Homo sapiens: one gene and its partners. The protein of the gene in region 3 purifies or fractionates together with the protein of the main gene of each other region. This does not show direct contact. Each region holds a gene or a part of one and is shown on either strand. Other genes may lie near its edges.

Evidence for each region.
Region 1: the proteins of ABCD3 (region 3) and MPV17 fractionate together in Homo sapiens (co-fractionation; one large-scale study listed by BioGRID). This does not show direct contact.
Region 2: the proteins of ABCD3 (region 3) and MARCHF5 purify together in Homo sapiens (affinity purification with western blotting, with the first as the bait; one study listed by BioGRID). This does not show direct contact.

Annotation. Positions count from the first base shown.
Region 1 is NC_000002.12:27,308,958-27,313,212, forward strand, and holds the end of MPV17 (mitochondrial inner membrane protein Mpv17), read right to left. Parts: intron 4,153-4,255; coding exon 4,037-4,152; intron 3,816-4,036; coding exon 3,723-3,815; intron 3,633-3,722; coding exon 3,537-3,632; intron 3,290-3,536; coding exon 3,257-3,289; intron 2,995-3,256; coding exon 2,942-2,994; intron 1,025-2,941; coding exon 955-1,024; 3' UTR 535-954; downstream 1-534. UniProt on the Homo sapiens protein: Non-selective channel that modulates the membrane potential under normal conditions and oxidative stress, and is involved in mitochondrial homeostasis.
Region 2 is NC_000010.11:92,311,554-92,315,202, reverse strand, and holds part of MARCHF5 (E3 ubiquitin-protein ligase MARCHF5), read right to left. Parts: intron 1-3,649. UniProt on the Homo sapiens protein: Mitochondrial E3 ubiquitin-protein ligase that plays a crucial role in the control of mitochondrial morphology by acting as a positive regulator of mitochondrial fission and as an important regulator of immune response.
Region 3 is NC_000001.11:94,498,379-94,502,027, reverse strand, and holds part of ABCD3 (ATP-binding cassette sub-family D member 3), read right to left. Parts: intron 3,427-3,649; coding exon 3,349-3,426; intron 3,246-3,348; coding exon 3,180-3,245; intron 3,084-3,179; coding exon 2,994-3,083; intron 2,534-2,993; coding exon 2,414-2,533; intron 1-2,413. UniProt on the Homo sapiens protein: Broad substrate specificity ATP-dependent transporter of the ATP-binding cassette (ABC) family that catalyzes the transport of long-chain fatty acids (LCFA)-CoA, dicarboxylic acids-CoA, long-branched-chain fatty acids-CoA and bile acids from the cytosol to the peroxisome lumen for beta-oxydation.

The DNA of each region.
Region 1 (4,255 bases), on a different chromosome or scaffold from region 3:
GGGAATCATAGCAGCAGTGTAACTCTGCCCATGAGCAGCAAAGAAATATGGGTTCAAGTTTCTGCTAACTCCTGGTGTGGACAGGTCACCTCCCTCCTACCAACCTCAGGGTCCTCATTTGTAAGACTGGGCTTGGCCAGGCGCGGTGGCTCACGCCTGTAATCCCAACACTTTGGGAGGCCGAGGCAGGCGGATCACGAGGTCAGTAGTTTGAAACCAGCCTGGCCAATATGGCGAAACCCCATCTCTACTAAAAATACAAAAATTAGCCGGGCGTGGCGGTATGCGCCTGTGGTCCCAGCTACTCAGGAGGCTGAGGCAGGAGAACTGCTTGAACCCAGGAGGCGGAAGCTGCAGTGAGGCAAGATCGCGCCACTGCACTCCAGCCTGGGAGACAGAGCAAGACCCTGTCTCAAAAAAAAAAAAAAAAAAAAAAAAAAAAATTGGGCTTGGTGGTCTCTTGGCTTCTTTCCAGCTCTAGAAATGACTCCCCAATAGTTTTCTGCTTAAAAACTTACTCATTACCACTGCAGATTCCGGATTACATATTTAATAACATATTTACTGAGGCACCATATAAAGGGTTCCGGGAGTCTCTAAAGAGCTGGAGCTACAAGAAGCCTAGGCAGGGTTAGAGTAACAAATGTGTCTATGAAGAGTGGGGATGAGTGGCATTTGCTGGGATATGGGTGTAAAGTTGATAAGGTCATGAAGGTTCAACAGATATTTATGGAGTGCCTAGTATGTGGTGGGAATAAGACTATTATCAAGGGCTCTAAAGCAGTCAGTGTACATTTTAGAGTGAAGAGGGGCATTGCAGGGTGCTAGTCCTCTTAAGCTCTGACCGGCAACCCAACCCCGTGGAAACTGGTATGCCCACTTTGAGGAGGTTGTCTGACCGTTCCAGGGTCAAGCTGCATCACTGCAAGGTGGAAACGATGGAGTGAGGCAGGCTTAGAGCCGATGTGCCTTCCAGGACAGGTAGGAGTTCCAGATAACAGCAACACATTGGACAACGGCCAACCTAAGGAACAGGAATAACACAATGAAGAGGAGGAAGGCTAAGCAGTGAGCAAGGGCTGGAGATGGGAGCATGAAATGGCAAAGGAGGGATCATGACAAAGGATTGGCAGGTTTAGGTCTCTTTCCTTCAGCACCTTTTTTTTGAGATGGAGTCTCCTCTGTTGCCCAGGCTGGAGTGCAGTAGCACAATCTTGGCTCACTGCCTCCCGGGTTCAATCAATTCTCGTGCCTCAGCCTCCCAAGTAGCTGGGACTACAGGTGTGCTCCACCACACCTGGCTAATTTTTGTATTTTTAGGAGAGACAGGGTTTCACCATGTTGGCCAGGCTGGTCTCGAACTCCTGACCTCAAGTGAGCCACCCACCTCGGCCTCCCAAAGTGCTGGGATTACAGGTGTGAGCCACGACACCCAGCCCTTTCAGCACCCTATGAAGGGCCTGTGTGGCTTGCACTAAAGGACAACTGGCTCAAATTCTAGTGCCATCCCAGAGCTCTGTTTCCTGGCTGAGAGCCTCAAAGGCTAAATATTCAGCGGCTCTCTTGCCATGCATAGCTCTGTTAATCACAGAAAGGGCCCCTATCTGGGCCCCTTCTAAGTTCATTGATCTGTCTTGTACCAGCTGAGATTTCATCTTCCGAAATGTACGGACTATCATATAAAGTAGCATCTTTCTGTTTTAAATTAACCTTGCTCTGGTTTCAAAGAGTGTTGCAAAGGACCCTAATGTTTAGGATTTGGTTCATAAGTCTGTATTCCTTTTTTGTTTTTTCGGGTTTTTTTTGAGACGGAGTCTCGCTCTGTTGCCCAGGCTGGAGTGCGGTGGCAAGATCTTGGCTCACTGCAACCTCCGCCTCCCAGGTTCAAGCGATTCTCCTCCCTCAGCCTCCCGAGTAGCTGGGACTACAGGCACCTGCCACCACACCCAGCTAATTTTTGTATTTTTAGTAGAGACAGGGTTTCAACATATTGGCCAGGCTGGTCTCGAATTCCTGACCTTGTGATCCACCTGCCTCAGCCTCCCAAAGTGTTGGGATTACAGGCGTGAGCCACTGTGTCCAGCCTTTTTTTTTTTTTTTTTTTTTTTTTTTTTTGGAGACAGGGTCGTCTCACTCTGTCACCAGGCTGAAATGCAGTGGCACAATCTCAGTTCACAGCAACCTCCATCTCACAGGCTCAAGTGATCCTCCCACCTCAGCCTCCCGAGTAGCTGGGACTACGGGCACATGTTACCATGTGACTGGCTAATTTTTTGTATTTTCTGTAGAGATGAGGTCTCACTATATTGCCCAGGCTGGTGTGAAACTCCTGGACTCAAGCAAACCTCTTGCCTCAGCCTCCCAAAGTGCTAGAATTACAGGTGTGAGCCACCGTGCCCAGCCAGTCTGTATTCGTTTTAGCTATGCTACTCATGTACATTTTGGCCCTGTTCCCTCTGAAGCGTTCCATATTTTCCCCTGTTCCCACGATCCTTCACCTTCAAGCATTTGAACCACACATCTTCAGTGCCACTATCTTTTTGGGTGCAGTTCAGCAACTGTCTTTATTGTGAGTGTCTGACCAGGCTCCTACTTGGCCTTCTGGTCTACCTCTCTGTCTAACCTAGGCTGCAGCACCCCAGCCACTGTCCCTCCAGATATGCCATCAAAGACGGAGCTCAGGTGGGATGGAGACAAGGGTGGTAGAAGCAGGATCCTCCCTAGGGAGATGAAGAAGGTCAGTGGGCAGACACTCTGGGACAGTTTCCGGAAATGGCAAGACATTCTGAATAACACGCTTGGGAATCTGAGGAACTCTGATCACGGCTCAGTGTTCCGTTTGGGGGTCTAAGGTAGCTCAAGGTTGAAATGAGAATCATTTTGTCTCCAACTGTTGGTAACGTGGGTCTTCCTTGATGGGTGGGGTAGGGGTGCAACATACCTGTAATGAAGGGGGACCAGGTAGAAGTTGGCTAACTGCACAGCAGGCCATAGCTGCAAGAGAAAATGTAAAGGTTGGATGGCTGCCCCACCACCTGACCCCAGACTCACTGTCTTGCCTGGCCCTACCCCAACTTCTGCACACAAGAAAAAGGTGAACAGTTGGGTGATGGCTTCCCTATTTATGGTGCCCATCCTGGGAATGAAAGAGTAATCCCAACGGAAGGGTTTCCCATGTCAGGAGGACCCCCCAATCCCAGGACAGTTCTAGACTTAAGGAAGCAGGAGAACAAGCAGTTGAGGTGTCAGCTCTTACATAGTAGTTGGTGATAAGGGCATCAGGATAATCCTGGGGAGACAGAGAAGGAACAAATTAACACTTGCGCCTCCAAGCAGCTCCCACTTCCCAGTATGAATGTCACACACAGACTTGGGTTCAAAGAGCACATTCCTGCACCATAACCCTCAGCTCCTCTCCTCCATGGCCTGGGGCCCTACCTGCACTTACCCCCTTTTTTATCCCTGTAAAACCTGTCTTCTTCCCCTGGGCTGTCAGCCCGCCAGCCAGAGACATTCTCCACACCTGCCCAGCTCACCCGCTGTAGTTTGGCCCAGTTGTCCTGGGCTGACAGTCCATTAAGTGCCCCTACCAGTGGGAGAAAGCAGCCTAGAAAACACGGGGCAAAGCCCCCCTAGGGAAGAGAAATTAAAGTCCTATGAGTGCTGAAATCCCCACCTACCCCCAACACAGCTCACCCTCCCCACTCTGTTCTCCTGCTCACCTGATCCAACAACATCTTCTTCAGTGCATCCACTTTGGTGGTGCCAGGGATGAACCGATCCAAAACCTTGTACCAGCCTCCTACCACAGGGCCCTGGAAGTAAACCCCAGATAGCAGCAGGCTGCAGTGAGGGAGCCCTAGGCCTCTACCTCACTAAGCTCCCTGCCCCAAGTATCAGAATAGGGGAAGTGGACACTAAGAAAAAAGAGGGCGGCAGGTTGGCTTAGGTGTGAGAGTCCAAGGGAAGCCAAAGGATGGCAAAGAACTAAGACCACTGTTGAGTCCACTGAAGCCCTGTTGAGGGGAGAACTTACCACAAAGCCACAGCCCAGGGACACCATGGTCAGAGTCCGGCCTCTCTGGTGTTCCTGCAGACCCCGCCTCTCCACCAGCTGCTGTGAGATAATGTCACCCAGGCCCATCAGGGACCCTATGCAGGGTACACAGGTGTTGTCAGGACATCTCCTGGGATGGGCTGCCATTCCAAGGAGGGAGGGACATCTGCTGACCTCCACTGAGGCTCTGGTACTCTG
Region 2 (3,649 bases), on a different chromosome or scaffold from region 3:
TCTTAGTATATACGAATGTAACATGTTAATCAAGAAATACAAGCAACTTTTTAAAAGTTTTAGAAGAAGATATTTTCTTTTAACCAACAATTATTTTTGAAACTTGAATTGAAAAGTTGTGCTGGAATCAGCATAGCTAGAGCACTAGCTTTGTGTGCAGCAATGAAGAGCCCACCACCTGAAAGCCAATTCACACATGGCTTCATTTACAGACAACAGCTGGCTTGAGTCATTGTTAATAACTGCATGGAAAATTGTGAATATAATTAAAATTGCAGCCCTTGAATAGGTATCTTCAGCATGTTAAGAATGCAGCGGCAGGCTGGGCACACAGTGGCTCATGCCTGTGATCCTAGCACTTTGGGAGGCCAAGGTAGGTGGATTGCTTGAGCCCAGGAGTTTGAGACAAGCCTGGACAACATAGCAAGACCCAACCTCTATTGGCGGGGGGGGGCGGGGGGAAGCAGCAGCAGCAAATACTCTGTTTTTCTGTTTTGTCAAGAGGAAATATGCTAACAATACCTACTCAAATGAAGGATATACTTTTTTTTTTCTTTTTTTGAGACAGAGTCTTGCTCTGTCGCCCAGGCTGGAGTGCAATGGTGTGAGCTTGGCTCACAGCAACCTCTGCCTCCCAGGTTCACGTGATTGTCCTACCTCAGCCTCCCAAGTAGCTGGGATTACAGGCGCCTGCCACCACGCCTGGCTAATTTTTGTATTTTTAGTAGACACAAGGTTTCACCATGTTGGCCAAGCTGGTCTTGAACTCCTGATATCAGGTGATCCGCCTGCCTTGGCCTCCCAGTGTTGGGATTACAGGCGTGAGCCACCGTGCCCAGCGGATATTCATTTTTTTTTATAACACTGATGTCATTAAAACATATCTATGATTTTAAGCGGCTAACTCAAGTGCCATACCTCTATGACAGACAGTATAGTGACCAGCTTGAACATATCATTTGAGAGTAAAATTATAATTCTCTCTTTTATTTAAGATTGGTTTCACTCTGTCACCCAGGCTAGAGGGTAGTGGCGCAATCATAGCTCAATGCAGCCCCAAACTCCTGGGCTCAAGTGATCCTCCCAGCTGAGCCTCCCGAGTAGCTAGGACTTACAACAGGTGTGCTCCATCACACTTGGCTAATTTTTTTTCTTTTTCTTTTTCTTTTTTGTAGAGAGACAAGGTTTTGCTATGTTGCCTAGGCTGATCCTGACCTCGTAACCACAAGCAATCCACCCACCTGAGCCTCAAAAGTGCTGGGATTACAGATGTGAGCTACCATGACTGGCCACAATTCTTTTTTGTTGTTCAGACAGGGTCTCACTCTGTCTCCCAAGCTGGAGTACAGTGGCGCAATCACAGCTCACTGTGGCCTCCACCTCACAGGCTAAGGCAATCCTCCCACCTCAGCCTCCTGAGTAGCTGGGACTACAGGTGTGTGCCACCATGCCCAGCTAATTTTTTTTTGTTATTTTTGGTAGAGATGGAGTTTCACCCTGTTGCCCAGGCTGGTCTCAAGCAATCTACTCGCCCCAGCTTCCCAAAGTGTTGGGATTACAGGTGTGAGCCACTGTGACCCGCCACAATTTTTTTTTTTAGCACGGCGTCTCGCTCTATCTCCCAGGCTGGAGTGCTGTGGCGCTATCTTGGCTCACTGCAAGCTCTGCCTCCCGGGTTTACGCCATTCTCCTGCCTCAGCCTCCCGAGTAGCTGGAACTAGAGGCACCTGCCACCAAGGCTGGCTAATTTTTTTGTATTTTTAGTAGAGATGGGGTTTCACTGTGTTAGCCAGGATGGTCTCGATCTCCTGACCTCGTGATCTGCCAGCCTTGGCCTCCCAAAGTGCTGGGATTACAGGTGTGAGCCACCGCGCCCGGCCCGGCCACAATTCTTAGTAACAAAATATGCAGACTAAATAATGATACAAATGGCTTAACCAAAGAGTTTTACTCTTTTCTTTTTTCTTTGAGATGGAGTCTCGGCTCTGTCGCCCAGGCTTGTGTGCAGTGGCACGATCTTGGCTCACTGCAACCTTTGCCTCCTGGGTTCAAGCAACTCTTCTGCCTCAGCCTCCTGAGTAGCTGGGACTACAGGCACACGCCACCATGTCCAGCTAACTTTTGTATTTTTAGTAAAGACATAGTTTCACCATATTGGCCGGGTTGGTCTCGAACTCCTGACCTCGTGATCTGCCCGCCTCTGCCTCCCAAAGTGCTGGGATTACAGGCGTGAGCCGCCACGCCCAGCCAAGATTTACTCTTTTCTAACAACTAGGTAGACTTAAAACCATATTCAATTACTGCACTAAACCTGAAAACATATTTCCTAGAACTGAATTCAACCAAAAGGACAGATCTACACATTGCCATCTCCAAAATTAAAATACTCAACTTTGCTTTCGAGTGCCATACACTTGTCAACTTGATGTAGTTTTCAGTGAGAATTCTTGTAATAATTTTTGTGTCCATTTGAATATCTAAAACATCTAATAGAAATATTTAATTGTTGCTCTTCCCAACTCTATAATTCAAAGGTGGGGCTATCTAATTTAGTACAACTAAGAGCAAGAAAAGAAATCAGTTAAATATGAAACCTTAACTTGGACTTTAGTGAGTCTTTCACCATTCATGTGGTGGTACAATAATGTGAACAATCATTGCTTTTCCTGATACTGATTTAAAAATACTTCTTTGATCTTACAATAAAAACATTTTGAATTATTCTTTTGTGTTTATCTAAAATCAGTGGTATGCACTGAAGACCCATCACATGGTCCACAAATTCCAAATGTTTGAAAACACTACTTTCTCTACTACACTACTTCCCCTTCAAAGGAAGCTATCATTTCTTCCTGTGCATGTTAGAGAAAAACAGAGAACCAAGGACATTTTGTTTGCCCTTATTATTAATCTTCTCATATTAGAAAAGCACTTCATTATCTGCATTTATGTTGCCACATTTTCAAAAACATTGGTCTGATTTCAGTATGAATAGCACTTATAAAAAACAATATATATAATAATTATTTCCAATTTTTCCTGAATTCCCTCTGCCCCCAAAGACATTCTTTCCTTATGACCTTCCCAGAACCCAAGCTGCCTTCCTATACCTCTTGGTTACAGTCAAGGGTTATAAAAAAATGTTTAACAACTGGCATGGTATAAACACCAAACCAAGAGATTGACACCAATTTATAACTGTATGGCTGTAATGGAACAGGCTCACTAAATATCAGCCTTAGTTATACTGCTGCTAAAGAAGCAGCCTTAGAATGCTTCTTGTAAGCAGTCTGCTATACTTTTTTTCCATGCTAGGCCTGTTCTCAAAGATCTTTGGTTATTTCTTACCTGCCACTTCACAGAAAAGGGATAGCAGGGTTCATGAAAGAAACCACATAAATTGGATTCCAAAGATGAGTTTAACGTCACATCTTATTAAATATTTAATTTCTCTACTTTTATTCCTTAAAAGGAAGAATTAAGGAGAAGTATTAGAACATACTACTGCTTTCTTTCTCTTACACCGTCTCCAGATAATTAAGCTAAGTTAGTTTTTTTTTTAAAAGTCAGCTTTTTATTAGAGCTTTGTTATTCAATTATATCCACACAGGTATGCAAGTTCTTTCTCCTTTCTATCAAACAGACAGTT
Region 3 (3,649 bases):
ACCCTGGATTATGAAGTCTGTACTGGACAGGAAAGGAGGCAGAGACAGAAAAGGACTGAACAATTGTAAGGAAAGGGAAGGATTAATATTCTAGAGATCTCAGGGAATTTGAGAAAGGGGGATAGTTGCTAATTTAAGGTAAAAAAAAAAAAGATTTACAAAAATGGATTAAAAAAACACTAAAAATTTTATAACAGTGGTATCTCTGGTAAAGGGGTTTGGCCCAATTTATACTTAAATAAATATTCCACTTTTCCATCATATATACTTTTTCATAATTCAAAATAAGAAAAGTTATTACTAAATAGGAAGAGCAAGAAAAATGGAGTGGAAAAGATAACTTTTGGTCAGAAACACAAGATATCCCAAATTGTGACATTAGCTGGAGCAACCCTGGCTGACTCACTGTTCTAAGTGGCTAGGCCTTTTAGGTCTGTTCTTCCTAAAAATTCTAATACCTACTTTCCCCTCAACTTTCTACTTTGGTAATTTTCAATCCTACCAAAAAACTGAAAGGACAGTAAAATGAATACACATATATAATCTTTACCTAATTTCACCAACGTTAGTATTTGTAGCGTTAGCCTTCTCCTTTCCACCCTCTGAAACAAAACAACAGGCTCTCTTTTACACATCACATTCAATTCTCTAGACAATGGCTTGGCCATGCTCCAGTTATATATGCAGTGGTGTCACAGGTGAGCTTTCCCCATTTCCCAAACGCCTCTATTATGGATCATGTGTTTTTTTTTTTTTTTTTTTCTTTTGAGACAGAGTCTTGCTCTGTTGCCCTGGCTAGAGTGTAGTGGCATGATCTTGGCTCACTGCAGCCTATGCCTCCCGGGTTGAAGTGATTCTCCCGCCTCAGCCCCCCACTGCTCTGGGCACGCCTTTGAATTCCTAATCTTCAAATCAAAATTATCCCTCCTGTACTTTTATACCACACACACACTGTTCCTTGGTTTAAGTACATTCATTATTCATTCTCTGAGTTTCCGTCGTGTCCATTTCTGAACCACATCCTTCCATTTTCTCTGAAGACATAGTACAGAAATTTAAAGTTATTTTGCAGCTCTTTTTTGCAGTTATTTCTATAGTCATCTTCTAAATTGACTCTAGAAATGCCTAATCATTTCAAATTTTCACTCCTTCAGCCTAATTTCCATTTTGAATATAGCTATTATCTCTCTCATTTATGATTTACTCTTCACACTAGATTCATCTCACGTTATAGCACTAGCCAGGCAAGTCACACTATTAGGTTAATATTAACCTCATGTAGAGTGGGTATGATTTTGGGAAAAACAACTTGCAAAATCAGGGACTCGGAGGTAACAAAAAGGTGGAATATAACCTGAATATAATGGGTCAGAAATTCTGCCATAAGCCAATTTCTTTTGCTTTCTTTCCTTAGCTACAGTTTTCTCTAATCTCCATACTCTGCAGGGGGAGAGGAGAATCTCTTGCTTGGATCTATTCAAACTATGAAATATATAGTTAAAAAATGACTCTTTATGAAGTTGCCCCTCTTGACAAGGTACCCAAACTACCGTTCTTTTTAAATTTTTATTTATTTATTTATTTTTAGAGAGACGATCTCCTTCTATCGCCCAGCCTGGAGTGCCACGGTGTGTGATCACAGCCCAATGCAGCCTCAAACTCCTGGGCTCAAGCAATCTTTCCGCCTCCCAGTAGCTAGGACTATAGGTGTGTGCCACTACGCCCAGATAATTTTTAAATTTTTTTTTGTAGAGAAAGGGTCTTGCTATGTTGCCCAGGCTGGTCTCATTCTTACTACGTAGTGTTTAGCGCATATTTTTGGTTTGAGACAAGTTTAGTCATCATAACAATTAAAGTAGTTTCTTTCAAATGCTTGTTTATATTAGGAAAACTTAAAAATTCTAAGTAACTTTAAGTAGTAGATACTGAACCTTGAAACAAAAACATACATATAATAGTGGAGGAAAAGGGCAAGAACAGAATAAAGATAAAATTTGAATGGATCGTTTCTAATACCTTCAGCTATTTCAGAAAGAATAGCCTGAGTGATACAAAAGAGATGTCTATAGGGAAGAGACATGAGAAGAAATTTCATAACCCAGCCAGGATTACCTTATATCCCAGGAATAATGAGCTACAGAGTTTCTCTGAACTTTTAGAAAAATGGATTATTGGTATATAGTCGGATCTGCAGCTTTTCCTTTCATAGATACTGGCAGGGTATTTATGAATTTTTCAGAATTCCAAATTTACATGCAAGTTAAAGATTTTCAAGCACTTTTATGATAATTTAAACTAATCCATACTGAAACAGCTGCTGAATAAAAAAATATAAGATGAAACTTTGTGTCCTGATTAATCAAAATGCTGGAACCAGTTGCATTCTTGTGCAACTTCTTCACAGTATACTTACCGCCATTCTTTGCTTTTCTCCACCACTGAGTACGTCCATCCAATCCTGAACACTGTCCCAGCCTCCTTCACGTTCAAGGATATGACCCAACTGGACATTGTCTAAGTATTCCTTCAGTACCTTTCAGCAAAATGATTAAAGATGAAATTAAACTTAATATAAGCCAACATTCTTAATAGTGGTTTATTTTTTAAACTGGAATCACTATAATTCTATTGTCTGTACCACTTAAAAGATACATTTCAGAAAAGAATGTGGCACAAGGTAGCCCTGAACCTTTCAGCTCCTAGTATCTACACCAAACTTGACAAAATATGTCTAGTAGCTTAAAGAGAATAACACTATTGTACACAGTAAAAGGATGATGGCAATGAGAAAACAAACAATGGTGTAAAGGTTAAGATTAAACTCTTTTTAAGCCAAGGGATTAACATCTTACCTCAGCTTAGAAAATCACAATTTACAGCTTTGGAAGGCTTTACAGCTTAAGATAAACTACCTGGCATTTAAAATACTTAATTGATTAAAATAAATAATCTGGAGTATTTTCAGTGGATCTAGGATATAAACATTCCCTTACTAGGTCAGAAATTCCCTTCCTTTTCTGATCTTCTCGTCCATCTGGATATATCACTTGATCTCGAAGTGTTCCAAGGGTCATGTAAGGTCTCTGACAGTAGTAGAGCAAAAGTCAATTAGAAGCAACATGAAAAAATAAATAAACAAAAAGATCTTTAGATCAAAGATAACTCAAGCTAGGTCTTACCTGAGGAACATAAAATAATTTTCCTCTTTCAGGTTTAGTTAGACGTCCTCCAAAAAGAGGCCATAACTATTAAAGAGAGAGAAGGGAGAAGAACAATTGTAAAATTTACAAAGTGGTAGACAGTATGGCAAAATAAGACTGCAAAATTTTGAGGCCAACTTGTACTTACTTCACCAAGAACACGGAAAAGTGAACTCTTTCCGCAGCCATTTGGACCACAAATTAGAACATTAGCCCCAGATCGAACCTGAAAAAAAAAAAAAAATCAGTCTGTGAAGTAATTAAATCAAATTAACATATACTTAATCAACATTTCCTTAGACTCAAATATTAATAGCTCCTGGCTAATTATAAGCCTTCTATTTGTCTGTAAATGTAGCATTAGGTAGAGCAGTGAAGAGGTATTGTGAAGGGACCTTTTACTTTGTTTACTTCCAATTTTTACCATTACTTTTTTTTCACTTAAAAAA